4 separate regions of the Homo sapiens genome follow, and all the other regions are linked to region 2. Evidence: fine-mapped expression QTL. A gene starts in region 2. Each other region holds a variant in brackets. All regions are shown on one strand. Distances are from middle to middle. Region 1 has its middle 6.6 kb from the start of ATP2B2-IT1. Region 2 holds the start of GHRLOS (ghrelin opposite strand/antisense RNA). Region 3 holds the start of TATDN2 (TatD DNase domain containing 2). Region 4 overlaps LOC101927467 (a long non-coding RNA gene).

Evidence for each region.
Region 1: its variant is fine-mapped to the expression of GHRLOS in vagina (GTEx, PIP above 0.99).
Region 3: its variant is fine-mapped to the expression of GHRLOS in whole blood (TOPMed, PIP 0.90).
Region 4: its variant is fine-mapped to the expression of GHRLOS in nucleus accumbens (GTEx, PIP 0.98).

Annotation. Positions count from the first base shown.
Region 1 is chr3:10,572,965-10,581,065 of GRCh38, reverse strand. It overlaps a transcript of ATP2B2 not described here. Among named protein-coding and RNA genes, the nearest start is that of ATP2B2-IT1, 6.6 kb to the right of the region's middle. The variant G/A (reference allele first, on the strand shown) is at 4,998.
Region 2 is chr3:10,277,373-10,285,473 of GRCh38, reverse strand. GHRLOS (ghrelin opposite strand/antisense RNA) reads right to left here and starts at 4,522. Exons shown (of 6, transcript NR_073568.1): 1 at 4,472-4,522; 2 at 1,871-1,953. It overlaps TATDN2 (TatD DNase domain containing 2), which reads right to left. Exons shown (of 8, transcript NM_014760.4): 6 at 7,012-7,195; 7 at 6,411-6,589; 8 at 4,256-6,253. The coding sequence ends at 6,449. It overlaps MIR12127 (microRNA 12127), which reads right to left and starts at 5,123; the gene lies at 5,022-5,123. It overlaps LINC00852 (long intergenic non-protein coding RNA 852), which reads right to left and starts at 1,055. Exons shown (of 1, transcript NR_026829.1): 1 at 1-1,055.
Region 3 is chr3:10,247,028-10,255,128 of GRCh38, reverse strand. TATDN2 (TatD DNase domain containing 2) reads right to left here and starts at 6,670. Exons shown (of 8, transcript NM_014760.4): 1 at 6,062-6,670; 2 at 5,515-5,934. The coding sequence starts at 5,928. RefSeq lists an enhancer at 5,234-6,102 and a silencer at 6,355-6,784. The variant T/C (reference allele first, on the strand shown) is at 3,483.
Region 4 is chr3:11,067,842-11,075,942 of GRCh38, reverse strand. It overlaps LOC101927467 (a long non-coding RNA gene), which reads right to left. Exons shown (of 3, transcript NR_188517.1): 2 at 4,005-4,103. Among named protein-coding and RNA genes, the nearest start is that of SLC6A1-AS1, 53 kb to the right of the region's middle. The variant G/A (reference allele first, on the strand shown) is at 4,207.

The sequences.
Region 1 (8,101 bases), 300 kb before region 2:
AGTCCCCAAGCTCCTGTAGGGTTGTTGTGAAAATGTGACAAAATAATACATGTAAAGTCTCATAGCCTGTACTTAATCTATGACGGGGGTCAGCAAATTTCTGTAAGAGGCCAGATTACATATTTCAGGCCTTGCAAGTTAGATGACTTCTGTCGCAATGATTCAACTTTGCTATATAATATGTGAAAACGGCCATGGATACACACAAATGAATATGACTGTATTCAAATAAAACTTTACTTACAAGAAGCAATTGAAGCCTGATGTGGCCACAGGCTGTGGTTGGGCCAGCACCTGGTCTATGGAGAAACCTATGTGATCTCTGAAATGCTATAAAAGATCAGAGAAGAGAGAGTTCTCGCCCCACTCCCAGGCATGAAAGTTTCTGTGAAGAAGAACAAGGCGTGGGAGCAGGGAGACAGGGAGGGGGAGGCAGGGAGGAGGGGCTGCGGACAGGGATAAGGCCCAAAGATGAGGAAGCAGAGGAGGGTGGTAGGGGAGGAGCCGCACTGAGCATTTTGCAGGGGTATCGTGGGAAGGGCCGGAGGTGTCGGTTGGGACCAGGCCAAGCTGACCTTACACGCCACCCTCATCCACAGAATCACTGCTTCCTTTATGTAACAAGTATTTGCTGAGCACCTGCTCTATGCCACACACTGTTCTGTGTGCTGAGGCCACAAGAAGAGCAAGACACACAGAAACCCCTGCCCTCATAAGAGCTTCGGTTCCAGTGGAGCAGGGAAACTGAGACCCAGAGAGGCTAATGACTCCCCCAGAGTCATGTAGCTGGTACACAAGTGTTCTTTGGTTTTTAGAGTATTCCGCGTTTCCTATTGATATATTAAGATGAGCACAGGATTTGGGGTCACACTGACCAGGACTTGAGTCTCGTTCCCCTGCCATCCAGCCCTGTCACCTGTTCTGAGCCTCAGTTCCTCTGCCTATACATGGCCCGTAATCCACACTCCCCCTGTTGATGTAGGATGACCGGAAGAGTGGCTGTCAGTGGGTGGGACCTCAGCCTATCCCTGCCATTAGAGCCCCTGGATCACTGCATTCTGAATCCCTTGGGCCTCTCTGTGACCAGGGTGCTCAGAACTTCCACCTGCCAGGAGGCGTTAGAAACTTTTTTGAGCCAAATGGAGTCACTTGTGCTACATTCATGGAAGGGGAAACTGTGGGGCGGCACTTTGAGGCCCACCTTCTGGGTCTGTTTCTTTGTTTTGTTTTGTTTTGTTTTGTTTTGTTTTGTTTTCAAGACGGAGTCTCGCTCTGTTGCCCAGGCTGGAGTGCAGTGGCATGATCTCAGCTCACTGCAACCTCTGCCTGCCAGGTTCAAGTGATTCTCCTACCTCAGCCTCCCAAGTAACTGGGATTACAGGCATTCACTACCATGCCTGGCTAATTTTTGTATTTTTTAGTAGAGACAGGGTTTTGCCATTTTGGCCAGGCTGGTCTCGAACTCCTGACCTCAGGTGCTCTGCCCGCCTCGACCTCCCAAAGTGCTGGAGTTACAGGTGTGCACCACCATGCCCAGCTAATTATTGTATTTTTAGTAGAGATGGGGGTTTCACCATGTTAGCCAGGCTGCTCTTGAACTCCTGACCTCAGGGGATCTGCCTGCCTTGGCCTCCCAAAGTGCTGGGATTACAGGCGTGAGCCACCGCACTGGGCCCTTCTCAGTCTGTTTCTAAGTGAAGGGCAGCTGCACAGACCCCACCTTGGCCACTCAGGAGGCGAGCCCTGTTCTGGGCACATTTGCAGCATCATCTCCACGAGCTGCAAGCTCATTATTCCCATTTTACAGAGCAAGAAGCTGAGGCCCAAGAGAATGAGAGGTGCCTCCCCTACAAAACTTCAACTTATCTTTAGCAATCGTTGGTTGAGCATCCACTATGAGCAGGACTCATGGTCTTCTTTAGTACCATTCTCAGAACTTCCCTGGGAGGTAGGCCTGGTCCTCCCCATCCCTCCCACATGGCTTAATCTTTCTTTCTCTCATTGAGTAAAACTGCACAGTACAATGAGCAAATCTCAAGTGCACTCCTGGGTGAATTTTTACCTCTGTTTCTACATGCATGACCAATACCCAGATCCAGCTGTAGCACGTTGCCACCTCCCCAGGAGGCCACCGCCCCTTCCCAGTGGATCCCTCCTTGCCCTCCAGAGGAGACCACTGCTCTGACCATTACCACGGTAGATTAGTTTCACCTACTCTGGAACCTCATATAAATGGAATCGCATGGTGTGTTCTCTTCCTGCCTGGCTTATTTCACTCAACATTGTGAGATTCATCCATCACCCATGTGCTCCAGGTATCAATGGTCCATTCATTTTCAGAGCCGTGTAGTATTTCATTGTCAGACTACATCACAAGTTGTTCATCTGTTCTCTTGTGGGTGGGCATTTGGGTTGTTTCCAGTCTTAAGCTATAGTGAATTAAGTCTCTATGAATATCTGTGTATAAGTCTTTGGTGGTCATATACATATATATGTTTTTCTTTTTGTTTTTTTTTTTTGAGATGGACTCTCTCTCTGTCACCCAGGCTGGAGTGCAGTGGCGAGATCTCGGCTAACTGCAACCTCCACCTCCTGGGTTCAAGCAATTCTCCTGCCTCAACCTCCCGAGTAGGTGGGACTACAGGCACGTGCCACCACACCTGGTTAATTTTTTGTATTTTTTTTAGTAGAAACGGGATTTCACCATGTTAGCCAGGATGATCTCGATCTCCTATATATTTTTATTTCTCTTATGTGGAGTGGGATTGCTGGGCCATAGGGTAGGTGTAGGTTTTGCTTTACTTGAAACTACCAAAACTTTTTCCAAAATGGCTGTTCCATTTCACACTCCCACCAGCAACGTATGAGAGCCTCTGTTGCTCCATGTTTCCAGCAACACTTGATACAGTCAGTCATTATAGGTTTCGCCACTATGGTAGGTGTGTGATCATACCCATTACATAGAAGCAGAAACTGAGCCTCAGAGATGCTGAGCCCCTTGCCCTGGAATCTAGGGCCTAGATCACAGGGTTACTGAAGACAGAGTAGAGACTTGGACTCTGGGATTCTGGATTTCGGGACTGTGTCACAGCCACAGTTAGAGTCATGGAGCTCATGGACAGAATCAGAATATAAGCAATAGTTATTAGTGTTTTCTGCACAGGAAGTGGATGGTTGAAAACCATCAGCAGCAGTGTTGGACCAGGCTGCTGGTCTGTGGACTCTCAGCTCAGTGCTCATCCTCCTCTGGCACAGTGCCTCGGGTTCCCTCTGGCATCCCCAGGGAGATCCCAGGTTCCCCGGTAACCCTGCCATTCCGAGTCACGCTGCCGGGAATGCATCCCCATGAGCTTGCCAAGAAAGATTGTTCTTTTGGGAGCTGGCAGGACACCATCTACATTGTGCAGCCCAGGGCCTTCTCTGAGTCCCCCTCCCAGGGGTTTTCTGTCCCCAAAGGCACTGATTGTTCCTCTCAGGAAAACAACCCGTTCTGAGGTTGGGAGATTAATGAGGATGATGGAGCTTCAGGAGACTCCTGCTTGGCCCTGGCCCAGCCGATGGTTTCTGCAGCCCTGGGATCCCCTGATGGCCTTGGGGATTAAAGCTGAGGAAGAGGACACCAAAAGTCTGAGATCCTATACCAGCTCTGCTCCTGTCTTGCCGGGTGACACTGGGAAAGTTACCTCCTATCTCTGAACTCTTGCCACTTTCCATAAATGGAAAGACTAGATGAGAAGCCAGGAATCTCAGCCAGTGTCTGGAACCCCAGAGCCTCCCAAGATTCCCTATGGCAACTTGGCGGTTTTGCCACACCTGTTGGCCTCCCAGCCTAGTGATTCTCAAGTCCTAAGGTGAATGTGATTCTCCAGGAATCCTGCTAACTGCAGATTCCAGCTCAGTAGATCTGGAATGGGATCTCAGTGCCTGGACTTCCATCAAGTTCCTAGGTGACAATGAGGCTGCTGGCCCAAGGACCATACCCAGGCAGCTTCTTTTTTTTTTTTTTTTTTTTTTGACACAGAGTCTCACTCTGTCACCCAGGCTGGAGTGCAGTGGTGATCTTGGCTCACTGCAACCTCCGCCTCCCAGGTTCAAGCAATTCTCCTGCCTCAGCCTCCCGAGTAGCTGGGACTACAGGCACCCGCCACCATACCAGGCTAATTTTAGTAGAGACGGGGTTTCACCATATTGACCAGGCTGGTCTCGAATTCCTGACCTTGTGATCCGCCCACCTTGGCCTCCCAAAGTGCTGGGATTACAGACGTGAGCCACCGCGCCCGGCCCCAGCTTCTTATATTGTCCTGAAGACAGCCTCCCACGTTATGCCAAGCTCGTCATTCCCTCCAGCTCTTCAAAAGGACTCTGGACCTTTAAATAATCATTCTGAGCCAGGTGTGGTGGCTCATGGCTGTAATCCCAGCAATTTGGGAGGCCGAGGCAGGAGGATTACTTGAGGCCAGGAGTTGAAGACCAGCCTGGGGAATATAGTGAGACCCCATCTCTACAAACAATTTAAAAATTAGCCGGGAAAGGTGGCACCACACCTGTAGTTTCAGCTACTAAGAAGACAGGTGGGAGGATTGATTGAGCCCAGGAGGTTGATGCTGCAGTGAGCCATGATGATACCACTGCACTCCAGCCTGGGCAACAGAGCAAGATGATGTCTCAAAAAATAACAATAATAATAAGAACAATCATTCTGATTGAGCTCAGTGTTCACCGTACACTCGGCCTAAGCAGCCTGAGTGAGAAGGGAAGCCTCGGAGTGTGGAGTGAGGCCGCAGGAGAAGCATGCTCATGCCTGCAAGGACGTTCTGCCGAGTGTGCGCAGGACATCCTCGGCCCTGCCCTTTTTCTGGTGCCAGGTCCATCCACGGGGGCAGTCAGCACAGGGGCTAAGGCATCTGGAGGCCTGGACACCTCCAGTCAGCAAACCTGGCTTTGTAACTTTGCTCTGCCAGCAACTAGCTGTAGGGCCTAGGCAAAGCCCCAGCTTC[G/A]CCATGTGTGAAATGAACACGTTAGCAGCATTTGCGGTACAGGGTCATTGTGCAGGGGAGTGAGGCCATCCATGCCAAGTGCTTGTTAAGGGCCACGCATCCCTGGACATGAGGGACAATTTTAAGGTTTCCTATCTTGCTCAGAACTGAACACATGGGGTCTCTAAGGCCCAGATTTTGGACAGTTTCCAGAAGTCAGATTCTCCCTCAAATAACTAGCGCTTCTCTAGGTTATCCTAGAAGCCCATAGATTTGGGCAAAACTCCCAAATGCAACCCTACATAGAGCCTCCCTGCCAGCACAACTTCCCTCAGACACCAGAGACAACAGAGGGCTGCCAGCCAGCAGCCCAGGGGAAATTCTCCTCTCCAGGTATTGGTGTTTTTATGCACATTTCTCATCCTCTCTACCCCAGACATAACCTAGCATGCATGAGCTGCCAGCTAAGTCTTCTCAAGTCAGTGTCCACCTATCACTGCCCCTGCTCAAGAGCCTTCCATAGCTCCCATAAGTGTGTAGTTCAGCAGCATTAAATATATTCACATCATTGTGCAACCATCACCACTATCCATCTCCACAAATTCTTCATCTTCCCCAACTGAAACTCTTATCTAAAGACTTTATATGGATTGTTTTCGTTGAATCCTCCCTAGAACTCTAGGAGGTCATTTTCCCAATGACCTCTTCTCTATAATTATTATTTTGTCTGAGCCCCATTGGCCTTAGTTTTCTCATCTGCAAAATGGGGCATAATAACCCTCTGAGCTTTACAGACATATAGGGCCCTCAGGCTCAGCCTTCTTGCACCTCCCCTCAGGTACACCCTCTGCCCAGCAATTCTGAATTGTGATCCAGATGGCTTTTTCTGGTGCTGGAGCCTAAGTGGTGGGAGGAGGGGTTGGGGAACCTATCCCCACTTCCAGCTCTTTCTTTCAGCTTTCTCCCCCGGGCGGAAAGGCTGTATTGTGACCCCAGGCACTGAGCAGTCGGCAGCGGGGACTTCACCAAGGATTCAGAAATACCAGGGTTTACTCAGGCCCTTGTTGACATGTGGGGTCTGGGTGTGTCCCAGCCCGGCAGGCCCTGAGACACAGGCCCAGGTGTCAAGTCAGCCAGCCCTTTGTGAATGGCTGTTCCCACCACACTCCCTGCAAGGGACAGACAAACCCAAGAATCCCACCCTCATATCCCCCTCCTCACCGGGTCTTCCATACCCACACATCCTTCCCCTACCGTGCAGTCTCCCACCCCGAAGTAGTCCACTCCTCCTTCCCCCACACAGCTGAGACCTGTTTACTTTTTAAATTAATATTGTAAGCTTTGCAGGGTTCCTTACACTCATGATCTAATTTAATCTTAAAAAGATCATTCCAAGTAGATATTACTACTTTTAAATATGTGTGCTCCATGTTTTACAAGTGACTTTGTGTATAGAGAAATGTAAATAATAATTATAAATTAGAGATAAGGAAAAAAGAAACTAATAATTACCCAAAATGCCCACCAGGGAGATAAGCATCATCTAGACCTTGTTAAAAGGATGAGATGGACTGAAAATCAATAGAAGAAAAGGTTGATATGGAGAATGCCCCTTGCCTAGTATGCTCTGAGAACGCCAGGCAGACAGATGGCCCAGGCAGATCCTCCAGGCAGAGGACCAGATGATTCTGCTCTAGGGAAAGTCACCAGCACCAAAAGAAACAGCCATCACCACTGCTGTGTGGGGGCCTCCCGGGGCACAGCTCAGCCACCTCGGTGAAGCCCACCATTCAGCGACCACCTTACCCCACAGAGCTCACAATCAGCAGTTTCATGTTTCCCCCTTATGTGGAATAGACTCCTAGGCTCAGCGGGCATCGGAGGGAGGCAGGAACCAAAACCCAGAAGAAAGAAACTGGGAGAAAATAGAGGCAAAGCAGAAAGCAGAAGATAACTTCCAAAACCCACTGCAATTAATTAACATTGCTGGGAGATAAGACAAGAGGGAGAAGCAATAAAAGGACCCCTGGGAGAACAAGAAGAATCTCTGGAAACAAATTTTTTTGAAATAGCAGAATTGAACGTGTCAATAGGATTTATAATGGGGGGAGACAGGCAGAGTCTGGCTGCTGAGTGAATGTTTGGGGAAGGACCAGTGAGAGACCAGAAAGGATCTGGGTTTGAGCAAGCAGGACCAGGCAGACGCCGTATTTGCTGGGCTGACAGCTCCCAGAGGAAAAGCAAATTGAAGAAGGCTTCTTTTTAGATGAGTTTAGTCAGGGAGTCTCCAGGACGTCCCAGTGGAACAGTTTGTATAGAATGGGGCACTCTACCAGCAAAGAAGCAGTAGATAGGAACCCAGAGAGTAAGATGGCGTTGCTCTCAGAGTCTGGAGCCTGGCTCAGCATAGGCTATTTCTACCCCAGCCAGTTCTTGCTGAAGGATGGTACCCAACCAAGCCTCTGAGACACTTGTTAACAATACAGAGTCCCAGGCCTGGGATCAAAACCTGGATGGGGACACAGGAATATGCATTTCAACAAGCTCCCCCAGAAATCTGAAATTGACCAAAATTTGAGACCCTCTTGTTTCAGGAACAGGTAGTGATCAAAGTTCTAGGGAAGAGACTGAGCATGCAGTCAGGGAGGCAGGGGGTGAACAGGAAGTAGAGGTGGGGTGCCATGCAGGAGCTTACTCTCTGTGCCAAGTTCTGCCATCCTGGTGCAGTGAACTTATCACTAACTTCAAAATAGCAACAGCTCTTCGAAATTCAGCAGCAAAATCACTGATTCAGGAAGCAATTAACATAGACATTCAATCAATTATTCATTGCATTACTAATGTGTAGCAGTAATCAAATTGGCCTTTTAATATGTATTTTTTTCTTTTAATTAACCCTGTCCAAAACTAGAGTATATTCCATGCAAAAAAAAAAAAATGTATTTGGCTTGATTTTAAAAAGAAAGAAGAGGAAAATAAAAACCATTTTATCTCATTATCATTGTGTCAAAGGAACCTGCGGGCAGAAATTGCTTTGTGTGTTGATTGTCTTGTTCACATGATTTGAGATGCACCAGGAATCTGCACGTCCCGTCTGCAGATGCCTGAAATTCCATCATTAGTGA
Region 2 (8,101 bases):
AAAAGGAGGAGGGAGAGGAAGAGAAAGAAGAGATAAAGTGGGACTAAGAGAAAGAGGGAAGAGAGGAAGAACAAAGACACAGTTCCTTTAAACATCAGGGCTTCCTGAGTGCAAGGCTGCATTAACAGCTTATTAACAACCAGCCAGGGCTGTGTGGACAAAGAAACTTCAGGATGACATTATCGAAGCCAACATCCATTCAAGATTGGAGAGGAAGACAGGAATGCCCAAGAGTGAATCTGAAGTTAGACGTTAAGTGAGGTGCCCAATCACGGCTCTTGGGCACTGCTAGACAGCACTGAAAGAGCTGCATTCTCCTTCCTCCCTTCTCCACTACTGAGAAGGCCTGACAAAGCAAATGCCTCACATGGGCAAGGCTGGCCGTCGCCATGGTTCCCTTACTGATACCAGGTGGGATCCCCAAACATTCCCTCAACTCCAGTTCACAGCAGACACGAGCCTTGACTCTTATGTTCCACAACTTAATTCCAGTTACGACACTGGTCTTCCCGGGGGAAGGCCACTCGGTCATGCCCACCTTAGCCTAAACATGTGGACTGACTTGACTGTAGGCAACGGATGGGACACATCGCTAAGGGGAGGGAAAGGCAAAGAACGAGGTGGCCCCAAAGAGCAGCACCACAGACTTGCCAATTCAGCCATCTGAGCGCTTGTGGGAAACATGCAGGAAGCCGTCTGCAGAGACAGTTGGGGTAATGCCCACACTCTGGAAAACCCCTACCACAGAGGGTGCTAGGAGCCGAGCGTCTCCCCAAGTAAAATTCTGGCCGCCACACATGCAGGCACTAACTACTGATCAGGTGCGGCAGGCAGACAGAAACCCAACTGCTCTCCCTCACATAGAAGCTGTGGTCTGTGAATGCCACCGTCATCCAGGGACTCTTAGAAATGTAGAATCTTGGGCAGCACCCCAGCCCTAATCTATCAGGATCTGCATTTTAACAAGATCCCCAGGCTACTTAGTAAACGGCTGATGGGAAATGGCTTAGAATCCCCTTCCCAGGCGTCACAGCACACTGCAGGCCCCCTACTCACCCCTCCACCCTCAGACAGCCATGCCCCTACCTCCCCAGGCACCTGGCACAAGTGGGTACAGAGATCAACACACTTGTCCTGGAACTTAACTGTCTCAGCTCTGTCACTTAGTTGGGATACGACCTTGATTATCACTAACTGCCCACAGCCCTCTTATCAATAGCTACAGAAGAGGAGCAAAGGCCCAATATGGCCAAAGTGGTCAGGAGATGGTTTCTTTTTGAGAAAGCACCACTGATTGGGCTTGGGAGAGGATGGGTACCAGGCTCTGGACAAATGCTGGTCACCTGATGCTTCCCCCACCAAAGACAAGAACTTACTTCTCTCTCAAAGAAATCACAAGCATTATTAACCGCCTGCCTGGGTCATTCAAATAGAAACAGATATTGCGCACCCACTATGGGCTGGGCACTCTCACCTGTGCCAGGCAACAAGGTGTAGTGCAAAGATCTGGGCTTTGGCCTCGGACCTGAATTTGGATACCAGCTCTGTGATCCAGGCCAAGACTGAATTTCTCAGGCTCCTCACATGTAAAATGCCTACCTTGCTGGGTTACTGCCAAGACTGAACATGAGGTCTCACATGAGCTGTAGCTGGCAAAGGGCCCGGCACGTAGCTAAGCATTCAATTACTACAGCAGCCAGCACTCACTGTCACACCCCTGATGTACACCAGGCACCGTGTTAAATGCTCATGCAGATTAATGTGATTTCACTTCATTTTCACAGCAAGCCTACTTATGAGGGAGAAAACTAAAGCTCAGAGAAATTAAGTAACTTTCCTAAAGCACACAGCAAGCACGTGGCCGACTCACAGCCAACGCCACAGGACTCAGGGGCTGCTTTTTCATCCGGTTCCACAGCCTCTCAGCCAGTGCAGCTTCCCTCGCTCTACTGCCTAGGATGAGAGAGGTTTCCATATTCATTCATTTTCCTTCAGAATACACTGGGTGAACTTGGTAGAGGGGTGAGGACAATTTCAAGTCAACAATGGGCAGAAATATAATTTATCAAAGAAAATGGTTGGAGGACACCCTTGAGAAAATGTATTATTTCAAACATGTTCCTGTATCAGCTTTCTTAAACCCACTCCTTTATGGATCGTTTAATGATACCACTGTAACTTGAGGGTCTCTAAAGTGGGGTGTATGTACCCCTAGGGTGAGCGAGCTATTTGCTGGAGAAAAAAATTCTCCTTGTGAAAAAACTTTTACTTTGTGTATAATTAGCATAAGAGCACACGTATTTAAGTTCTCATGCACTTATAGTTGTGTGTTCAGAAATCATCTTGAGAGAGTGCACAGAAAAGGGTTGAGACGCCTCAACTAAGCTACCCACCTTAATCTGAATCCACCTACAAATGTCACTGGCATTTGGGGGGCCGAGGCAGGTGGATCACCTGAGATGAGGAGTATAAGGCCAAACAGGCCAACATGGCAAAATCTCATCTCTACTTAAAATTTAAAAAAAAAAAAATTAGCCAGTCATGGTATTGGGCGCCTGTAGTCCCAGCTACTCAGAAGGCTGAGGCACGAGAATCACTTGAACCTGGGAGGTGGAGGTTGCAGTGAGCTGAGATCAGGCCACTGCATTCCAGCCTGGGCGACAGAGTGACACTCAGTCTCAAAAAAAAAAAAAAAAAAAAAAACCAAAACCAAAAAAAAATGTCACTGGCAAATGAGCACTTTTTAATACAGTGATCCTGAGAGGGACTGGCTGGCCACTAATCACCATCTTTGACAGAGTTTGCTTCTTTAATCACTGTACATTCCGGTGGCCATTTGCCCTTACTTTACAAAAATGAACAAAGCAAAATTAAGGTGCTGAAAGCAAACGATGAGTATCGGTCTCAAGCTTCCTATAGAAAGATGGAAAAACAACAGAAAAGCCAAGAACAGTCACAAGGACCATCACTGAGTGGACAAAGCCAACTGCACATTCAACTGTGAAGGAAATGAAACAAAGTTCAGGACGATGCCAAAAATACATAATCAATGATTGTATCTAAAAGATGAGGCAGCAACAGAGACTTCAAAGGTGTTCAGCATTCTTGGAAGGAAGAGAGCCTTTCTTTTTATGCGTAAGTTTACTTTTTTGGCCGGTGCACTTGTATTCAAGAATACCTTAGTACAAAATAGGAGGGCTGAGTGCAAGTAATGAAACAGAATTTCCTCCAGAGTTTACCCAGAGGCATCAGGAATTCACAGTCCAACGCCCACCATCCAACTGATTCATCAGTACCCCCAGGGACTAGATTTTTCTTCCTCCTACAGCCTTGAGCTGGAAACAAAAAAAAAACAAAAAAAAAAGAAAAGAAAGTACCTACATAGGTCAGAAAGAAGCAGTGCATCTGAGTTCCCAGACAGTAAAATTACTTAACACTCTAAGGCTGTAGAACTTTAAGAATTCTTTTCTGGGGGGAGGCGGGGGGAGGGGAAAGACAGAGTCTCGCTCTGTCACCCAGGCTGGGGTACAGTGCTGCGATCTTGGCTCACTGCAACCTCCACCTCCCGGGTTCAAGTGATTCTTCAGCTTAAGCCTCCCGAATAGCTGGGACTACAGGCGCGTGCCACCCCACCCAGCTAGTTTTTGTATTTTTAGTAGAAATAGGGTTTCACCATGTTGGCCAGCTTGGTCTCGAACTCCTAACCTCAAGTGATCTGTCCGCCCTGGCCTCCCAAAGTGCTGGGATTACAGAAGTGAGCCACCATGCCCGGCCGAACTTTAAGAATTCTTATATGCAGTTTAATTTTACAGAGAGCCACATAGATACTCAAGAAAGTCTCCAGCTGGCCGGGCGCGGTGGCTCACGCCTGTAATCCTAGCACTTTGGGAGGCCGAGGCAGGTGGATCACGAGGTCAGGAGATCGAGACCATCTTGGTTAACACGGTGAAACCCCGTCTCTACTAAAAATACAAAAAATTAGCCGGGCACGGTGGCAGGCACCTGTAATCCCAGCTACTTGGGAGGCTGAGGCATGAGAATGGCGTGAACCCAGGAGGCGGAGCTTGCAGTGAGCCGAGATAGTGCCACTGCAGTCTGGCCTGGGCAAAAGAGCAAGACTCCTTCTCAAAAAAAAAAAAAAAAGAAAGAAAAAAAGTCTCCAGCTACCTGGATTCTTGGGTTACAATGCTGGCCAACAACCAGACTAAACCACTGCATCACTCAGGTAAGTCTATACAAACACGGAGAGACTGGGTTGGCTAGAGGATCCATCACTTTATTTTCAGAAAAAGATGGCCAAAGAGGGGAAAAAATACAGAGGCATTCCCACAGCACAGTGAAAACAATTAGCCATCCAAAAAGCTGAATCAAAAACAATGCCAATCAGCTTTCACGCCCACACAGGTGAGGTTTCACTGTGCAACAGCACATAAATGATAATCTAAATCCTAGAGAGAAAAGTAGATAGCACCTTGTGCTTTTCCTTGGCAGGTGGATGGCACAGGCTTGGAGACTTCCATGTCATCTCCGCTTTTCCTCCTCTAACACAGGGCTGGTTGGTTTCACCTGCAGGCACTACTGACTTCAGGGCTTGCTGGAGAGGAGATGGTTGTGCTGCAGTTCACTTGGTGACTATAAACACTTTGATATGCTCGGCAGTCCCCCAAGTCTTCCAAGCAGGAAATCAGGTCCCCCCCGACTTCCCACATGGGCCAATCTGCAGCACAGACAACATAACAGCACAGCTAATCCGTGAAGACGGACAGTGAATCAAGGCTGAGTTCCAGGCCAGTGACTTGTGTACCAGGGGCAAGATGGAAATGCCAGATAGGAAATATTAAATCCATTCCATTTTAGCTCACAAGGCTCAAATGCGCCTTCCAAAAACACCTAGAGGAATTTAGGATTCCATAAGGGATGTATTTTACAATTTAAGCCTCCAAGACCACAGACGAGGGACTCCAGGTGATCTATCCACCTCACTGCAGATCAGGGTGAAGGATCCTTTGAAACAAAGTACAGTCTCCTCTCACTTAACCCTGGACCATTAGAACCTCTAGGGCCTGTAACGAGTATACCTTTACAAGGCACCAGCAGGCGGCAGAGCAGAGCTCAGGACTTGAGATGACTCAGTTGCTCAAAAGGTGAAGGAGAGGCTCTCACTTCTAAAACGCAGAAAGACAGGACACAGGAGAGGCAAAGCCAAGGGGGCACCCAGGAGATGCGGGAGAAGGACTGGTACATTTGCAGACACCAGGCCTGCTTATTCTGCATAGACAATGTAACATGGCTGAGCTGCCCAGCAGAGCTTCGGAGAATTACGCTGATTCACCTCTCAACCTGGGCGGGGTACACAAAGGACTGTACACAAGATGAAATGAGGATTATTTTTGGTCAAATGTTCCCAAGAAGGGGGCAAAAGTGAAACAAAAGGAGGCTGGCAGCCCCTGACACAAGACTAGCAGGTAGTTTCCGCCGCAAACTGAACCTTATCAGCTTAACACACCCACACAGCAGCCCTGAGGGCATCAGTGAGGAGGAAGTACCTCCTTTGGGGTCCTCTTCCCCAAGAAAGCCTCTTCCCGGAGTCCCCCAGTCTGTCCTGGATCTCCATCATGGACAATGAGTGCTCCTCTGCACCCCCCCATATCAATGGCAGTGGAACCAATGAGACCAGCAGCTGAAGTCCTTCTGCCTGTGCCGACGCTGGAGTTGACACCAGAACAGTGACAGTCAAACTGAAGAGTTATCCAGGGAAGGGAGGAGGACGACTTCACTGGTTGCAAGAAAATAAACCTCCGAGATAGGTGTCCAGTTAATTTCCCCCAAAAAGTTTCCCAGTTGGAAGTCTGTTTTTAGAACCGAGAACCAGGAACTGAGTTACACACCCACATGTGCTTAGACAAGTAGGCGGGTGACTTTATTCACCAACTACTCAAAAACAGGCTGCAGAGAACAGAATTTGGACTGCCAAACTCACTGTACCCTCATATCGCACTCTTTCTTCTTTGCTGCCTACCCTGGAGCATTTTGGCTGGGAGGCAAAATCCCAGTGCTATTACAGGCAGTCCCCATACCCCTCATTCCATGCCCACCCCACCCCACCCACCACCCAGAAGCTGAAGCCTTATGACCCGCTTGGAGGAAAACATCCTGTCCTGGTTTTCTGTGTTCCAATCAGCTCTCTAAACACATCCTCGACCTGAGACACAGACTTCAAGCCAGCCTGTGTTCTGTCAGGCTGCTGGTCGCCCTGGAGGGTGGAAGAGAAAAAGAAGAAGGTTCCAAACCATGTCACTCAAAACAAATCAGGCTTAATGCTCATACTATGTTTATATTCTTTACATTAACAAAATGCAACAAAAGACTTGTCCTGGTTTTTAAAAAATACAGAATGTGAGTTTTACGACCTTTTCTAGGAGACTCCCGAGGACTGTACCTTCTCTGCTTAAAGACTGTAGAGGCGACTGGTGTTCTCACGCAAGGCAGCCAAGGTGAGGGAGAGTGGCTGATCTTTGACTCTGGCAATCTCTCGGACCGTATGCAAGGCCAGGCCCGGGTGGGCATACTGGCAAAGGCTTTTGGGAACCTGGAAGACATCAAGTGGTCATAACATCATTGTGCCATGTGTGCACAGTCATAATCTAGAACTCCCTCCCTGTCCCTTCCCCAGCAAGGACCTCTTTGGGGCTGCCCTGTAGAGACCCCTTTACCTGCAGGTGCAGGGAGAGTCCTAGTCATGGGGGCTCTGGGTGAGCAGGGTCCCACGCTTCCTTGGACTACCCTCTACAGGGTAGGGCTTTGCACTGCCTGGAAGAGAGTGGTTACCCTTCAGCTTCTCAGCCCCCTAGACTTTTGGTTCTGCAGAGTAACAGCAAGGAGGCATCTACACAGCCCAGGATGGGACCTGGAAGTCACTGGGGCTCTGGCCCTGCCAACCTTGTAAGGGTGACCACCCACCTCCCCACCCTCTCCCTCCGGTGCCTCCACTCAGCCTGAAGACCCCCTTACCTGGCGAGGGAGGAAATAGGGAGCATCCGTTTCCACGATGATTCTCTCCAGTGGGATCTGCCTCAAGGCTTCCCGGGCCTCCCAGGCAGAGGAGTATGTCAGCACTGCCGTGAAGCCCACAGACATGTTGGGAAAGTACTTCAGCAGGGGCTCAATGACCGGGTAGCTGCCGGTGAAGCAATGCCTGGAGACAGAACTCCACATCAGGGCTGCTCACAGTCCCCTCTGCAGCAGCCCCCAGCTCCCCCCACACCCATCACCCCTTTTCAATGATTCCCAGAAATGGAAAGACTGCATCCTAGGGAAGGACTCCACAGTAAACACAGACAAGGGCTGGCTCCAACACAGGAAGCCCCGAGATGGCACTTGGTGAGTGATCAGAGATCACTCAGAGATACCACGCACACCACAGAGTGCTCTGCAGTCCCCTGAGATGACCACCACAGAGAACACACTGGGATAGGAAATGCTTCTAACACTGAAGAGGAGCAAAATCAACAACTGTGGCCCCTATGATGACAACGACAGCATATAAAAACTATGCCCAAGTAGTCAAATGAACTGAAAGGAAATCTAACAAAATACTGGGGAGTCGAACTACAGGTGGATTTTCTTAATCTGATACCTGTTCATGTTCTTGGTGCCATATATATAGTTACCAATCTGTAAATTTAGGGCCTCCTCCTGCAATACCACCTCGTTGGGTCACCTTAGCCCTGGCCTACCAGCCACCATTACATTTCCTTCAAAGTTAGCCCAAAATGAAGTAATGAAAAACCAACCGACCCAGAAAAGCCAACTGACTGCCTCATCATTGGTGTGTGCAGCAGCCAGGGGTCAGAGGCTTCACTCATTCTGCTTAGGTACCCAAAGGCCCTGACAGCCCCATCCTCCTTTTTCTGCCATCTGACAAGACCCGATTTGGGTGCTAGAGTCCTTGTTATTCAGCCAACCCCTCTCAACCATCTTTAAGGAGCCGGCCAGGCATCACCTCCTGAGTCTTCTGGCTGGGCTATGATAATGGGCCCCTGCTGTGGCTCCCACAGCACCTATGACCACCCAGTCCCACATGCTATGTAGGCAGAAGCCA
Region 3 (8,101 bases), 30 kb after region 2:
CTGAGGCAGGAAGATCACCTGAGCCAGGAGGTCAAGGATGCAGTGAGCCAATTGCACCACTGCACTTCAGCCTGGGTGACAGACAGGAAAGGAGGGAGGGGGAGGGGGAGGGGGAGTGGGAAGTGGGAAGGAGGAAGGGGGAAGGGGGAAAAAAAGAGAGAAAGTGAGAAACACTCTCCTAGGCTGGAGGACCTAAGATGGATCAACGACACCGAGGATGAGTTTCAGCAGGTGACAGTTGGCTCTAAAGGTAAGAAGTAGGTAGACCATGGGCAGAAGGTAAGAGACAAACCACCTGACTTCATAAAGGGGAGAGTTCGTTCTTCCTGGAAGCACTGCTTGGTGAACTGTGCATCTCCAAAGGAAAGAAGGAAAGATAAGTGGAGATGTTGCTCCAGCCCTATCACCAGTAGCCTGAAGGATTTCAACAGCTCCTCACCAGCTCCCTGTCTTCTCCCTCCTACCCTTTCTCTGCAGCGTGCCAGAGGAGCTCTAAAATGCAAACCCCACCACTTCAGCCTTAGTTTAGAACCCTTCCAGGGCTCCACATTTGCCTACAGAATAATCCCTACCCCTGAGCTCATCAGGAACCCTTCACAGACTGGCCCCAGCCTTCCTGTCTAGCCTCATCTCCTGCCTTCCTCCAAACACGCAAGTGTCCAGGGAACGCAGGAGAGCACGGATGAGAGAAGGGAGGGCCAGCAGTGCCCCAAGCACTCCAGACAAGCAGCATTTCCTGACATTTTGGGCATGTATTGCTCCCTATGCCCGAAATGTCCTGTCCCCCTCCTTGTCCATCAGTAAGACTCAGATGTCACCTCTTCTGTGAGGACCTTCCTGATGGTCAGTCGCTCATTCCCCTGACCCTTGGGTACTCCAAACCCATCCCTGTTACAGCTCTCCACTCACTGCCCCGTGGTGAGTGACTTCTCAGTCTGTGAAGCATGGCCCGATTGTCCTTGGCAACAACAGCCCCAAGCCTGGTGTTCCACGTGTGCACTAGACATGTGCCAAGTGGAGATGCAGGAAAGGGGATGTGCAAAAGCTCTATCACTCAAGAGCCTCAATACCCAGTGCTTTACTGTGCCTGGGCTAACTCACCCTGCAGAGAGCTCCGCAAGGGAGGGACCCTGGCACCTTCGTCTTGCCACCCCTACATCTGATGCCAGGCTAGAACAGAGCAGGTGCTCCCAGAGGCAGCAGTGCAGAGAACACTGGCTTTGAAGTTGGACTAATCTGATATTACCCCACAGCTCGGCCATTTACCAGCTGCATGGCCTTGGTCAGCTTATTTAACCTTTCTGAATCTCATCTGCCCAGTGCCTACACAGAGTAGGTGCTTAAATATTTGTTAATTGATATGAAGGTATTTACTAATGGATATGTGGAGATAATACCACCTACTTCACGACACTTTTGGGATTATGTGATAGTCTATAGATCAAACATCGAGAATCATAGTTGACCAAGCCTTATCATACATGCTCAAATTTTCCCTTCCATTCTTTCAACTCTAAATTGAATGTAGACATTTAGATGTCATAGTAAAAATAATCTTTACTACATGAAGGTGCTCGTCACACAGTTAGTCTCCTCTGTGAAGAGTAAATGAAGATCATCAGCTAACATGAAACATCTCCAACTGTCCTGGAGGTAAGAAGGGAACGATGTGAGGTCAGCCAGCAGGGATCTCTACCGATTCTAAAATGACCAGTCTAACACCTTCCCCTCAGAATATTCTGTGACCTGGCACAGAGAAAGATGTGTTAAAGGCTGGTGGGAGAAGGGAACAAAGTCAACTGTGTAACCCTCAAAGTTTACAGAGCAAGGCCAGGCACAGTAGCTCATGCCTGTGATCCCAGCACTTTGGGAGGCCAAGGTGGGAGGACTGCCTGACCCCAGGAGATTGAGACCAGCCTGGTCAACATAGGGAGACTCTTGTCTTTACAAAACACAAAAAATTAGCCAGGCAGGCCAGGCGCGGTGGTTCACGCCTGTAATCCCAGCACTTTGGGAGGCCTATGCAGGCGGATCACGAGGTCAAGAGATCGAGACCATCCTGGCTAACATGGTGAAACCCCATCTCTACTAAAAATACAAAAAAATTAGCCGGACATGGTGGCGTGCACCTGTAGTCCCAGCTGCTGGGGAGGCTGAGGAAGGAGAATGGCGTGAACCCGGGAGGCGGAGCTTGCAGTGAGCCGAGATTGCACCACTGCACTCCAGCCTGGGTGACAGAGCAAGATTCTGTCTCAAAAAAAAAAAAAAAAAAATTAGCCAGGCAGGTTGGCACACGCCTGAGTTCCACCTACTTGGGAGGCTGAGGCAGGAGGATCGCTTGAGCCCAGGAGGTTGAGATGCAGTGAGCTATGATCATGCCAGTGCACTCCAGCCTGGGTGACAGAGCAAGACCCTGTCTCAAACAAAAAAAAAAAGTTTACAGAGCAGACACAGGAGAGCAGTGAGAGGACTCTAGAAGGACCTGAGGATGAACATGCCATTTTTGTGAGTACCCCTCGGCTGTGCTTGCTGAAGGACTTAGGACCAGGACAGATAAGTTCACAGATGACCACAGAGCAAGGGAGGAAGAGGTACAGATGAAGGTGGAAGGTAAGAGGTGTTTTGTAATTCATCAAGATGAGTCAAGTACTGTACACTTGGTTTTTAAACTGACAAACATATACTCCAGGAAGAGACTTCAGCAGTCCTAGAGATGGACAATCAGGGTAATATAAAAACCCTCACTCGACAAGAGTGATCTTTCTACAATGCAATTTCCTTTTCTGTGTAGAGCCCTGTATAAATTCTCTAATTGCTTAGAAGACAATCCAGCTGGCACAGTGGCTCATGCCTCTAATCCCAGCGCTTTGGGAGGACAAGGCAAGAGGACAGCTTGAGCCCAGGAGTTTGAGACCAGCCTGGGCAACACAGTGAGATCTTCATCTCTACAAAAAAAAAAATTTTTTTTTTTTTTTTTTTTTGAGACTGAGTCTCACTCTGTTGCCCAGGCTGGAGTGCAGTGCCTTGATCTCGGTTCACTGCAAGCTCTGCCTCCTGGGTTCATGCCATTCTCCTGCCTCAGCCTCCCAAGTGGCTGGGACTACAGGCACCCGCCACCATGCCCGGCTAACTTTTTGTATTTTTAGTAGAGAAAGGGTTTCACCGTGTTAGCCAGGGTAGTCTCAATCTCCTGACCTCGTGATCTGCCCACCTCGGCCTCCCAAAGTGCTGGGATTACAGGCGTGAGCCACCACGCCCAGCCCAAAAAAAAAATTTTTAATCTGCAGGGTGTGGTGGCACATGCCCATATTCTCACCTATTTAAGAAGATTGCTTGACCCCAGGAGTTTGAGGCTACAGTGAGACATGATTGCGCCACTGCACTTCAGCCTGGGAAATCGTTTCAAAAAAATAAAATAATTTTTTTAAAATAAGAATACAATTGGCCGGGCATGGTGGCTCACACCTGTAATCCCAGCACTT[T/C]GGGAGGCTGAGGCGGTCAGATCACTTGCAGTCAGGAGTTAGAGACCAGCCTGGCCAACAAGGCGAAACCCCATCTCCACTAAAAATACAAAGATCAGCTGGGCACGGTAGCGCACACCTGTAGTCCTAGCTACTTGGGAGGCTGAGGCAGGAGAATTGTTTGAACCCAGGAGGTGGAGGCTGCAGTGAGCAGAGATCATGCCACTGCAGTCTACCTTGGGTGACACAGTAAGAATCTGTCTCAAAAAAAGAGAATACAATTCTAAGGGAATTGTCCCTTAGAATAAAATCCATTGTCCTTAGGATAAAATCCAAATTCCCTTGGCTACTAAAACCTTGCTGCAATCCACCCCCTACCTCGCTCTCCAGCCTCCATTCTGGGCTCACTACTCCATCATACCACATTGTGGGCAGTCATGCGACCACTCCTCCAGCCCTCCCACCAGACTGCTCCCTAGAAGCTCATCACTCCCAGACCCAACAGTGCGTGGCCCACAATAACCCTCAAGTGCTTCTACTGAAACCATTAAATTGGGTTCTTGCAAAACAAGGCCCCTTTAGCCTTAATGAGAGAAAGGTGGGTCCACCTACAATTAGACCCACCCAGATTAGAGACCACACCCTCAAACCTGAGTTCCAGGTCTTTAGGACAGCCAGGGATTCAGCACACCTGAAAGACTATGTAAAGTAAATTTCCTGCCTCTCCCAGTAACAGGTTTCACTCTATCTACAAATTGTCAGTGAAGCTAAATTGAATCAACTGGTATTATTTTATGCTGTACCCAAGTCTACTGAAATTGTATCAAGGATTAATGGCAAGATTAACTTGTATGAGCAAAGTCCCATACTTACCTGATTTGAGACAAATTCAGCATTCCTACGCTAGAGACAGGGCTTTTCAACTCACTGTTATTTGTGAATTTAAAAAGAAAAAATCCACGTGCCCACACAAGAGTTCAGACAGTGAGGTCCACATTGAAAAAACCAGGGGCACTTAGCCTATGAGTCCCCAAGACAAACAGTCAAATACAGCCTCCTTTCTCAGCTACACAAAAGAAACCACCAAGGCTAGGCTTAAAAACAAACACATATTCCTTAGGGCCTGTTTTAATTGCTTTTGTAAAGTAATTTTCTCTAGAGGCAGCCCATCTGATCCCAAATAAGACTGTTTCTCCACTCCTCCACAGGCAGAACTTCTCACTTCTTAAGACTCAGACCTTCAAAATCTAGGATGCAAACTCTAAGGGGAAAGTGATCTGTTTTGTTAGTAAAGAATCCCAAACACCTAGAACATTGCCTGGCACAAACTAAACCCTCAACACATATTTGTTCAAAGCCTTGATTGAGTAGATGAGCGAAATGTATCTTCTCTGTGAAGCACTCCTTGGTCTGCTCAAAGTACTTATGAAACCCTCTTGCATGTTTCCATTAGGGAATTAACAATTTAACCTCCAAAAAAAAAAGAAAAAAAAAAAAAACTAGCACCACCAAGCAAAACCCCAACATGCTGGAAACTATGACTTTGGAGAAAAGCTACACCAAGAACCGCAATTCTTGGTTCTGTGATTCAGAGTGGTTCAAAGTACAAGGGCACACAATTCTTTAAACTGACAACTAAAATAAATACATTCTTCTCTTGAGCACATAATCCACCTTCTACTGCAGTGATTCTCCAACGGGGCTGCACGTTTACAATAACCTGGGGAGCACTGAAAAATCTGGAAGCCCAGACCACACCTCAGCCCAATAAATCAGTTTCTCTGGAGTAGGAGGCAGGCCCAAGTATTTTAAAGCTTTCCAAGTAGTTCCAAAGTGCTGCCGAGTTTGAAAATTACCTCTCTACTTAACTTCAGGCCACGCGCCTGGAAGACTGCTAGGTCTTCGAGTTTGGGGGGAGTGGACTTCTAGAAAGACCTTCCAGACCTTCAAGGATGTAATGTTTTGTAGTCTCCTTCCACCAAAATTCCCATCCCCAACCTCTCAAGCCATGTGGAAGGGGCTTCACCGATTGCAAAGCGTGGCAGCCACCTACCTTAAGGCTGCAGGCTTCCTCCTCTAGAGAAGCCATTTCTTCCAAAGAGGCGTTGGCAGGACGCAGAGGGGATCCCCCTGAAGACAGGAACCCCCGAGTGTTCCGAATCAGGCAGCCTTTGGAGGCGGCCCCGCCCACACCAGGGCCCAAGAAATGTGGGGAGAAGGAGGAGGAGGAGTTATTTCTGCGGCGGGATGAGCCCCAGGATAACCTCCGCGAGCAAGCCACATCGTCCTCCTTCTGGGCTTTCAGGCGCTTGGGGCTGCTGGGCCCTCCAGAACGCGACGCAGACCTCTGAGCTGGCCGGCTGGAGGGGGCCACATCACAGGGCTCCCGGAGGCAGCTGCGCTTGCGGGGACACCCTTCCGACGTGCTGCTCCAGTTGTGCTTGACCTTGCCCCGCTCGGACGCCATGGGCACCTGCAAGGTACAGGGGGCCTGGATTCCAACACCACCCTTCCTGGCGACCCCACCTCAGATTCCCGCCACCCCGGGCCCAGGAGGACGGCAAGACATAAGGGCAGAGCCAGGGGCTAGCCTCACTGACCTTTCCCTCTTCTTTCCACTGCCCATCACAGTTCTCAAGGTTTCAGAGATGCCAAACCGTGTTGGAGAAGTCAAAGCGATCCAAAATTGACTAAAGGCTGCCGTCGGTTTCCAAGCCCACAACGTGCTTCTGAGATCAGGAAGCCTTCACTTTGCCCAGCGCTACTTCGGAGATGCCTAAGCGCTTCCGGGGCTACGAAGCGCTTTGATCAGTTTGCAATATAAAGCCCTTTAGAACTGTCAAGCGCTTCAGAAGACCACATGGCGCTTCAAGATCCACACATGGCTGCCGGATCCGCGGCCCCGGGGCCGGGCGCTTAGCCCGTAGGCCAGGGCCAGACCCGGGCGCCGCAGCCCGCCCTGCTCCTGCGGCCCAACCAGACCCGGGCCGGAAGGGGCCCGAGCGGCCCCTCGGGAGCTGGCAGCGCCCTCGACCGCCAACTCAGGACGCCCCCCGCCGGCTGCCGCAGCTGTCCCGCCGGGCAGCCCGCCGCCTGCCCCAGCCCTACAGCCCCGCCTGGCCCGGCCTCCGCCCGAACTGCGACCACTCCGGCCTCCGTGGCGCCCGCCCTCCGGAACGAGCCCTGCGGCCCGCAGGCCGGAGAGCGACAGGGGCGGGGCCTGCGCCAAACGGAAGGCGCCCATTGCTCGACCCGGCAAGGGGCGGGACTCCGAGCAAGACGCAGCCCGCCTCAAAGCCAGGCGCCTTGGAGTCGGGACGGTACGCCTTAGGAAGCTCGTCCATTGGTCAGAAGCCAGATGGGGCGGAGCCACTCACGTGGGCTCGAACAGCGGGAAGTTGAGGCCAGCCAGATGTGCAGGCAGGTGGTGTCCGCTGACGCGCCTCACTTAACGCTGTTTTCCTCAGCGCCGGCCGCTGTACCTGAAGCTTTCAGACCTGGATTTCTCATCGAGCCAAAGCAAACCGTGTACTGAGCATTATCACCCCACTTTATAGAGCAGAAAACTGTGGCTCAGAGAGACTAAGTACACACCCAGAAATGGGAAGAATTAGAATTAGAAGGCACCAAAAAAAAAAAAAAAAAGACTACACAAAAATGTGAACTATCCGCCTGGTGAAAAATATTAAAGACGGCTGGGCACGGTGTCTCACGCCTGCAATCTCAGCACTTTGGAAGACCGAGGCGGGAGGATGGCTTGAGCTCGGGAGTTAGAGACCAGCCTGGCCAGCATGGTGCGACCCCCATCTCTACAAAAAATAAAATTAGCTGGGCGTGATGCCAGCTACTCAGGCTGAGGTGGGAGGATCACTTGAGGCCGGGAGGTCGAGGCTGCAGTGAGCTGTGATCCCGCCACTGCACTCCAGCCTGGAGGACAGAGCAAGACCCTGTCTCAAAAAAGAAAAAAAATCAAAGACAAGGTACAAATTCAGAAAAATACTCGAAACATATGACAAAGGGCTGATATTCGATGTAGCAATTCTCCCAAAATAATAAAATAACTTAGTATTAAGACTGGCAAAGGAGGCTGGGTCCAGTGGCACACGTCTGTAATCCCAGCACTTTGGGAGGCCGAGGTGGGTGGATCTCTTGAGGCAAAGAGTTCGAGACCAGCGTGGGCAACATGGTGAAATCCTGTCTCTAGTGAAACACAAAAATTAGCCTGGTGTGGTGGTGGGCGCCTGTAGTCCCAGCTACTCAGGAGGCTGAGGTGGGAGGATCCCTTGAGCCTGGGAAGTCGAGGGTCCAGTGAGCCAAGATTACTGCCACTGCACTCCAGCCAGGGAGACAAAGTGAGACCCCTGTCTCAGGGAAAAAAAAAAAAAAAGGCAAAGGAAGCAATGAACAAAAACAAATCATGAAACGCTCCTAAATATAAGAAAGATGGCTCCACCTCAACCATTAAAAAAGTACATGTAAGGCCAGGTGTGGTGGCTCACGCCTGTGATCCCAGCACTTTGGGAGGCCAAGGCGGGCAGATCACGAGGTCAGGAGATCGAGACCATCCTGGCTAATACGGTGAAACCCCGCCTCTACTAAAAATACAAAAATTAGCCAGGCGTGGTGGCAGGCGCCTGTAG
Region 4 (8,101 bases), 790 kb before region 2:
GAGCTCAGTCCCTCTGCCAGGCGACACCAATGGGGAGGTTCACAGAGAAAGTGCATTTGAACTGGGGGCTTGAAAATGTGCAGGAATTTTCCCACTAAAGACAGTGGAAAGGGACCACAGGCAGAAGGAAGAGCATGTGCAAAGGCACAGAGGTGGGAAAACAGAGAGGAGCTAGGTGACTGGTGGGTCTGGAGCATGGGCGGGGAGGCTGGAGGGTGAGAGGCTGCATCCTAAAGGGCCTTGGGTGCCAGAGAAAGTAGTGGCATGACATGGCCAGAGTGGCATTTTAAAAGGACTGAGAGGTGAAGCTGACTGCGCTTCCGGGTCGGGTGGGAACCTGGAGAACTTTTCTGTCTAGCTAAAGGATTGTAAACACACCAATCAGCGCTCTGTGTCTAGCTAAACGTTTGTAAATGCACCAATCAGCACTCTGTAAAAACACACCAATTAGTGCTCTGTGCTTAGCTAAAGGTTTGTAAATGCACCAATCAGCACTCTGTAAAAATGCTCCAATAAGTGCTCTGTGTCTAGCTAAAGGTTTGTAAATGCACCAATCAGCACTCTGTAAAAATGCACCAATCAGCACTGTGTCTAGCTAAAGATTTGTAAACGCACCAGTCAGCACTCTGTAAAAATGCACGAATCAGCACTCTGTGTCTAGCTAAAGGTTTGTAAATGCACCAATCAGTACTCTGTAAAAACAGACCAATCAGCACTAGGTAAAATGGACCAATCAGTGCTCTGTAAAATGGACCAATCAGCAGGATGTGGGCAGGGCCAAATAAGGGAATAAAAGCTGACCATCCAAGCCAGCAGTGACAACCCGTTGGGATCCCCTTCCGCTCTGCGGAAGCTTTGTTCTTTTGCTCTTCACAATAAATCTTGCTGCTGCTCACTCTTTGGGTCTGCACTACCTTTATGAGCTGTAACACTCACTGTGAAGGTCTGCAGCTTCACTCTTGAAGTCAGCGAGACCATGAACCCACCGGGAGGAACAAACAACTCCCAATGCGCCAGCTTTAAGAGCTGTAACACTCACTGCGAAGGTCTGTGTCTTGACTCCTAAAGTCAAGCGAGACCAAGAACCCACTGCAAGGAAGAAACTCCGGACACATCTGAACACCTGAAGGAACAAACTCTGGACACACCGTCTTTAAGAACTGTAACACTCACTGCAAGTGTCTGTGGCTTCATTCTTGAAGTCAGTGAGACCAAGAACCCACTGAAAGGAACCAATTCCAGATACAAGACCACAGCAGCAATGTGGGTGGAGAGGCCAGTGGAAGGCTCAGCTGCTTTACAGCAAGGGATGGCAGTCATGGGAGTTGGGTAGTGGTTTGTGGTTGGGGTTATGAGATACGGATACACTTGGGAAGTACTTTAAGAGGTAAAATAAACAGGAGCCAATGACTGGATATAGGGTGGGAGGATGTGGAAGCATCCAACCTGGTGCCTGGGTCCCTAAGGTGGGAAGCTGAGTTGGAGGGGAAGCTGCTCACTGATATCAGGTCCCTCAATTGGTTACCAAAACACCAAGGGTTTGGTGTAGGTCCTGTTGTTTGCCACACAGAAAGCCAATGACTGAGATGAGTACTGCCAAGGAAGAAGTCTTTAACTGGGTGCTGCAGTCCAGGAGATGGGAGCTCAGCCTCAAATCCATCTCCCTGACCTACTAAAACTGGGGCTTTATATAGCGGGGAAGAAATGTAACTATGTGTAAGAAAACAGGAACTCGGGGTGGGGGGGGCAAGGAAGCAATCATGAGAATGAGGGGTACTATCTGGTGTAGTGATCTGGTGAGTTTTAGTTCTTTGATACTTTTTTGAGAGGCCTGAAGTTCCTTTCCTGAGGAAGGAACTCACATAAAACAGATGTAAATTTCAAGCTTTAAGCCCAGAAGGATCAATTTCTATAGTTATCAAAAATAATGGTCTGTGGGGCAATTGGGCTGGTTTCAGTCTCCCCTTTCTACTTATCAATCCCTCAATCATGAGGAATCTGGTCTGAGTATTTCTGGCTGTTTCATTCTGAGGATGGGTGTCCTAGGCAGTGGCCACCCAGGAATCAAAGGTTAATCTAATATAGAGTTTTCTTCTGACACTCAATCTTTCTCTCTCCAGTTCCCCACTTCCACCAAAGACAATCACAGCAGGACCACTCTACCTGCAAAATAAGCTTCAGTTCCATATACTTGGCCTGATAACCCACAAAGTGCAACAAGAATCATTGTCCATATAGACTCCCAAATTGGCTTTGCTGGAATCTCACAAGGCCATTTCAGTCAAAGCCTTGAGAAGATAACCAGTTACTCCAACTGTGTCCCATTACAAAAGAAAACATGTTATTAATTGTGTGCAAACAAACACCATGAATTAAGAATATTCACAAAGAGTTTCCATATTCTGGATAAATTAAGCAGAGAAATATCTCTCAAATTCTGTTTATAAAAGCATACTCCATTCAATACCCTTGAAGTATATATACTTTAAGACTATAAATACACTTAAAGGCTATAAATAAATAGCTCAAAAGAAAAAGATTCTCCAGACTCTGAAAAACAAAACCAAAAGAATCAGCAATATTTCAAACAACAAAAGCCATAAAAAGTTCTTTCTGTCCTGCATTAGTTCAGTCCATGCAATCACCTCCTGCTCTGCTTCGTATTGGGTTGGGAATCTTTATGAGCACATCAGCCTTTCAATTAGTGCCCTGGAAATTTTCTCTCTAATCTAGTGGCACAATCTCCAAAGTTATCAGAAACCTGCATTCAAGAGTCTTTTTCATGAACTCCTCCAAAGAAGGAAGCTTTGGACTATAGCTGATTGTAAGTCACTTTTTTTCTTTTGAGAAGGATCACAGCAAAACATCAATTGTGGATGACAAAAGTCTTCAGACAGCCATAGTTAAAGACACAGTTGACAAGGAAACTTAATCATTTCTGTGGCATAAAACAACTTAATATAATAATAATTACTACTGACAACATATATTAAGACGTATCAGAATTTTAGGACTCTCATACAATCCTGGAACACATACTAACAATACATCTATATAAATATAACCCAAGGGAAGTTAAACATCATCTCAGATTTGGCAATGCTTCTTGCATAATCCTAACGTAACAAATCAGCCTAATATGTCTCTCTCAGACTTCAGGGAACCTAATATCCAAGAAAGTTAGTTTAAGGTCAAGAGACTGAATTTAGAACTTGAAAGTTTGCTCTTAGAAGTCTGCCGAATATCCAGAAGAATGGTGTGAACCCGGGAGGTGGAGCTTGCAGTGAGCTGAGATGGCGCCACTGCACTTCAGCCTGGGTGAAAGAGCAAGACTCCGTCTCAAAAGAAAAAAAAAAGTTTGCCAAATAGCGAAGTTTTAGGCACAAAATAATATCACAAGTCACTGTAAAAATAGTCATTCATTTAGCGGAGGTGATAAAATAAAGACGTTTACTTTTTGATAGATTTAGTTTCCCAAACAGTAAGACCTAATAAAGACAGCATGAGGCTAACTAAATCTCTCTCTCCACTCCATTATCTCCCTGCAGTGTACTCAGAAGGTCAACATCATCTTTTATCTCTCAGTATTACACAAACATTTTATTCAAAAGAAAACGATATTTTACCTTTGTATGGTATATTACTAATGTCAAAGCTAATTTTAATAAAACCTTATAAAAATCTAATTGCAATCAGTTTGACCATAAGGTAAGGTTTCCATAAACTTTTAATAATTGTTTCCAATTTTCTATTAAAGAACAGATAAATGTTCCAAGAAAACCCTGTTATTCCAACACATGGGCCCAGATGCTGGCCTTGCATCAGGGAGCTTTTGATATTAATGTTTAATTTATAGAAAAACTCTGAATTAATCTTATGCCTCAAAATCAGCCCTTATAACTTCACACACCTACCACTTCTGCAATAGTCTCTGGGCCTAGAGGGATTGAATAGTTTTAATTTCTGGCCTGTGTCTCACAAAAACAGTTCATTTGTATTGTTACCTTCTTCCAAGTCTGAGGATGAGGCTTCCACTGGTGTCAATGCTCAGAATTTAGCAGGGGCTGGTGCCTTCTTCAGACCCAAGAGTCAAAGCCCTGTAACTTAACAGCACAAGCATTCATTAATACAATGTTTATATTACAGAAAGTTCTATCATTCTAATGAGAGGTGACAGCATGCTGGCAGCCCTTGCTTGCTCTCAGC[G/A]CCTCCTCAGCCTCAGCACCCACTCTGGCCGTGCTTGAGGAGCCCTTCAGCCCACTGCTGCACTGTGGGAGCCCCTCTCTGGGCTGGCTGAGGCTGGAGCCGGCTCCTTCTCCTTGCGGGGAGGTGTGGAGGGAGAGGCGTGGGCAGGAACTGGGGCTGCGCATGGCGCTTGCAGGCCAGCACTAGTTCCGGGTGGGCATGAGCTTGGCAGGCCCCGCACTCGGAGCAGGCAGCCGGCACCACCGGCCCTAGGCAGTGAAGGGATTAGCACCCAGGCCAGCAGCCATGGAGGGTGCACTAGGTCCCCCAGCACTGCCGGCCTGCCTGCACCACGCTCAAATTCTTGCCAGACCTCAGCCGCCTCCTGGTGGGGCAGGGCTCAGGACCTGCAGCCTGCCATGCCCGAGCCTGCCCCCCTCCCCACTGTGGGCTCCTGTGCAGCCCGAGCCTCCCTGACAGGTGCTGCCCCCTGCTCTGTGGCACCCGGTCCCATCGACCGCCCAAGGGCTAAGGAGTGTGGGCGCGTGGTGCGGGACTGGTGGGCAGCTCCGCCCACGGCCCTTACGTGGGATCCACTAGGCAAAGCCAGCTGGGCTCCTTAAGTCAGGTGGGGACTTGGAGAACTTTTATGTCTAGCTAGAGGATTGTAAATGCACCAATCAGCACTCTGTGTCTAGCTTGGGGTTTGTGGATGCACCAATCAACACTCTGTATCTAGGTAATCTGGTGGGGACTTGGAGAACTTTTATGTCTAGCTAGATGATTGTAAATGCACCAATCAGCACTCTGTGTCTAGCTAAAGGTTTGTAAATGCACCAGTCAGTGCTCTGTGTCTAGCTAATCTGGTGGGGACTTGGAGAATTTTTATGTCTAGCTGGAGGATTGTAAATGCACCAATCAGCACTCTGTGTCTAGCTCCAAGTTTGTAAACGCACCAATCAGCACTCTGTGTCTAGCTAAAGGTTTGTAAATGCACTAATCAGTGCTCTGTGTCTAGCTAATCTGGTGGAGAACTTTTATGTCTAGCTGGAGGATTGTAAATGCACCAATCAGCACTCTGTATCTAGCTCAAGATTTGTAAATGCACCAATCAGCACCCTGTCAAAATGGACCAATCAGCTCTCTGTAAAATGGACCAATCAGCAGGATGTGGGTGGGGTCAGATAAGGGAATAAAAGCAGTCTGCCTGAGCCAGCAGTGGCAACCTGCTCGGGTCCCCTTCCACACTGTGGAAGCTTTGCTCTTTTGCTCTTTGCAATAAATCTTGTTGCTGCTCACTCTTTGGGTCCACACTGCCTTAATGAGCTGTAACACTCACCGCAAAGGTCTGCAGCTTCACTTCTGAGGCCAGCGAGACCACAAACCCACCGGGAGGAATGAACAACTCCAGACGCGCTGGCTTAAGAACTGTAACACTCACTGCAAAGGTCTGCAGCTTCACTCCTGAAGCCAGCGAGACCACAAACCCACCAGAAGGAAGAAACTCCGAACACGTCCAAACATCAGAAGGAACAAACTCCGGACACACCATCTTTAAGAATTATAACACTCACCGCGAGGGTCCGCGGCTTCATTCTTGAAGTGAGACCAAGAACCCACCAGTTCCAGACACACTAACATGTTACAAATTAAAACACTGAAATTTGGCCTTTAGGAGTTACTGCCTGCAGCACTTCAAACCACTGTATTAAGTAGTTAGGTTACTCACTGCATATATCTAATTGCTAGTATTCTAGTGACAAAACTGTGACCAAAAGCATCAAAAAGTGATAGGTCCTATGGCAAAATAAGACAGCCAGCTTTTCTCTCCATCATTAAAAAAATGATAAATGCAAATGTCAGTTTTGTCAATTCCGTAAGAGGATAAATAATCTCCTTTCACTTAAATATCACACAACAACACAAGGACAAAGTAAGGACAAGTACACAATAATTTCTTTTCAGTTATTTAAAAGAGCATCATCCCACATTTCCAAGACTGGTTTCTAGAGACAGTAGTGACAGCTGATTAGGTAACTTTCACCACCAAAATCTTCAAACCAGTGCAACGCCTGCACATATTTTGTTTTCAAGTATACACATGAAGGTCCATCAGTGATAAATGGCCTGGGATCAGAGATCACTAGAAAGTCTCAGAATTTTTTATTAGTACTTAATCCAAATGAATATTCCTTAATTTTAATAATGATCAACACAACTCAATTAGTTTGAGAGAAATCCTAACCAATATAATTTCCCTAAGGACAAAGCCAGTCTTTCTCGAACATTAAAATTGTACCCATATCACAGTTTTTCCTCATTAAAGGAAAAGATCTGAAACCAACTCAAATCATTGATTTAATTGAATTACCTTGGAAAAAACATCACTTAAACATTTCTACTACTTTAAAACATGCCTACTTTATTACATTTAAACATACCTACTTTTCCAAATAACGAAATATGTAATGTACTATTTCTGCTCAGAACTTGTAAAAACAAGTCTTTTATTTTTGCCAGGATCCTTAAAGGGCTCATAGATTTCAACATCATCAGAGGTAAGCAAAACAAACCAAATTCCAAATGGCTGGTGTGCTCCATCAATTCCTGCGGGCCCAACAAAGGCAGCCTAGGCATTCCAGATAAATAGAATAAGTGATAACTTGTTAGAAATTCATATGAAACAAAATAACTATTCACAGAACCAAATAAAAGCCTTCCACTAGATGCTAAAAAAAATCTATAGTATATATGCATGCACAAACAAAATCCAAAGAAGAATGAACAACAAATAAAAAGAGGCAAAAACAGCCCAGGTGCCATGACTCATGCCTGTAATCCCAGCACTTTGGGAGGCGGAGGTGGATGGATCACTTGAGGTCAGGAATTCAAGACCAGCCTGGCCAACATAGTGAAACCCCATCTCTACTAAAAACACAAAAATTAGCCGGGTGTGGTGGCACGTGCCTGTAATCTCAGCTCGGGAGGCTGAGGCAGGAGAATCGCTTGAACCTGGGAGGCGGAGGTTACAGTGAGCTGAGATTGCACCACTGCACTTCCAACCTGGGGGACAGAGTAAGACTCCTAAAAAAAAAAAAAAAAAAAAAAAAAAAGCAAAAACAAATAAACAAGAAACCTACCTCCAAACCTCCAACCTTTCCCCCACTCGGTCTACCCCAGAGGCTACAGTGTTACCTAGAGCCCCAAAACCCCACGTAATGAATATTTTATTCCTGATACACAATTCAGTATCCTTAAGTCCACCAACATTACTATACATCCTGTGCAATCCAGAAATTCACTCTAGACACACGACTAGTAATTATTAAATATTCTAATGCAAAAGAATTGTCATATTGCCTATGCATTTCTTTACAATATTTCTTATTTTACCTTCATCAATGAAATGAGATAGTTCCCTTGACCCCTTTGTGGGATTCATGAAGGGGTGGCTTGCTTACTCAGCCTATAGCTCTCAACCCCTCATGGGAGGGGGAGCACACAGGTGAGTGGGTGCAGAGGTAAGGAGGAGTGCTTCTGGGCAACTGGCAGGAGCAGAACTCTGTGCAGGCCTGCAGCAGCATCTAGGGGTTGCCCATGACCCCCAGAGCCCCATGTGTTACAGTGCACTCTTTTAGTTTTGCCATTCATGGACAGCTTAAGTGTTAGACAGCTCAGTGGAGGGTCAGTTTGACAACGTCTTGCACACGCACCAGGGTCCTTGTCCAGCGTCCAGGAGGAATCAGGTTGCACGAATGAATTGAAAATGGTAAATGCTGAGGATTTTATTGCTGATGAAAGTGGCTCTCAGTGGGATGGGAAGCTGGAAAGGGGATGGAATGGGAAGGTGGTCTTCCCCTGGAGTTTGGCCAGGGACTCTGAGGCACCACTGTCAAGCCATCCCTCTGAAGTCAAG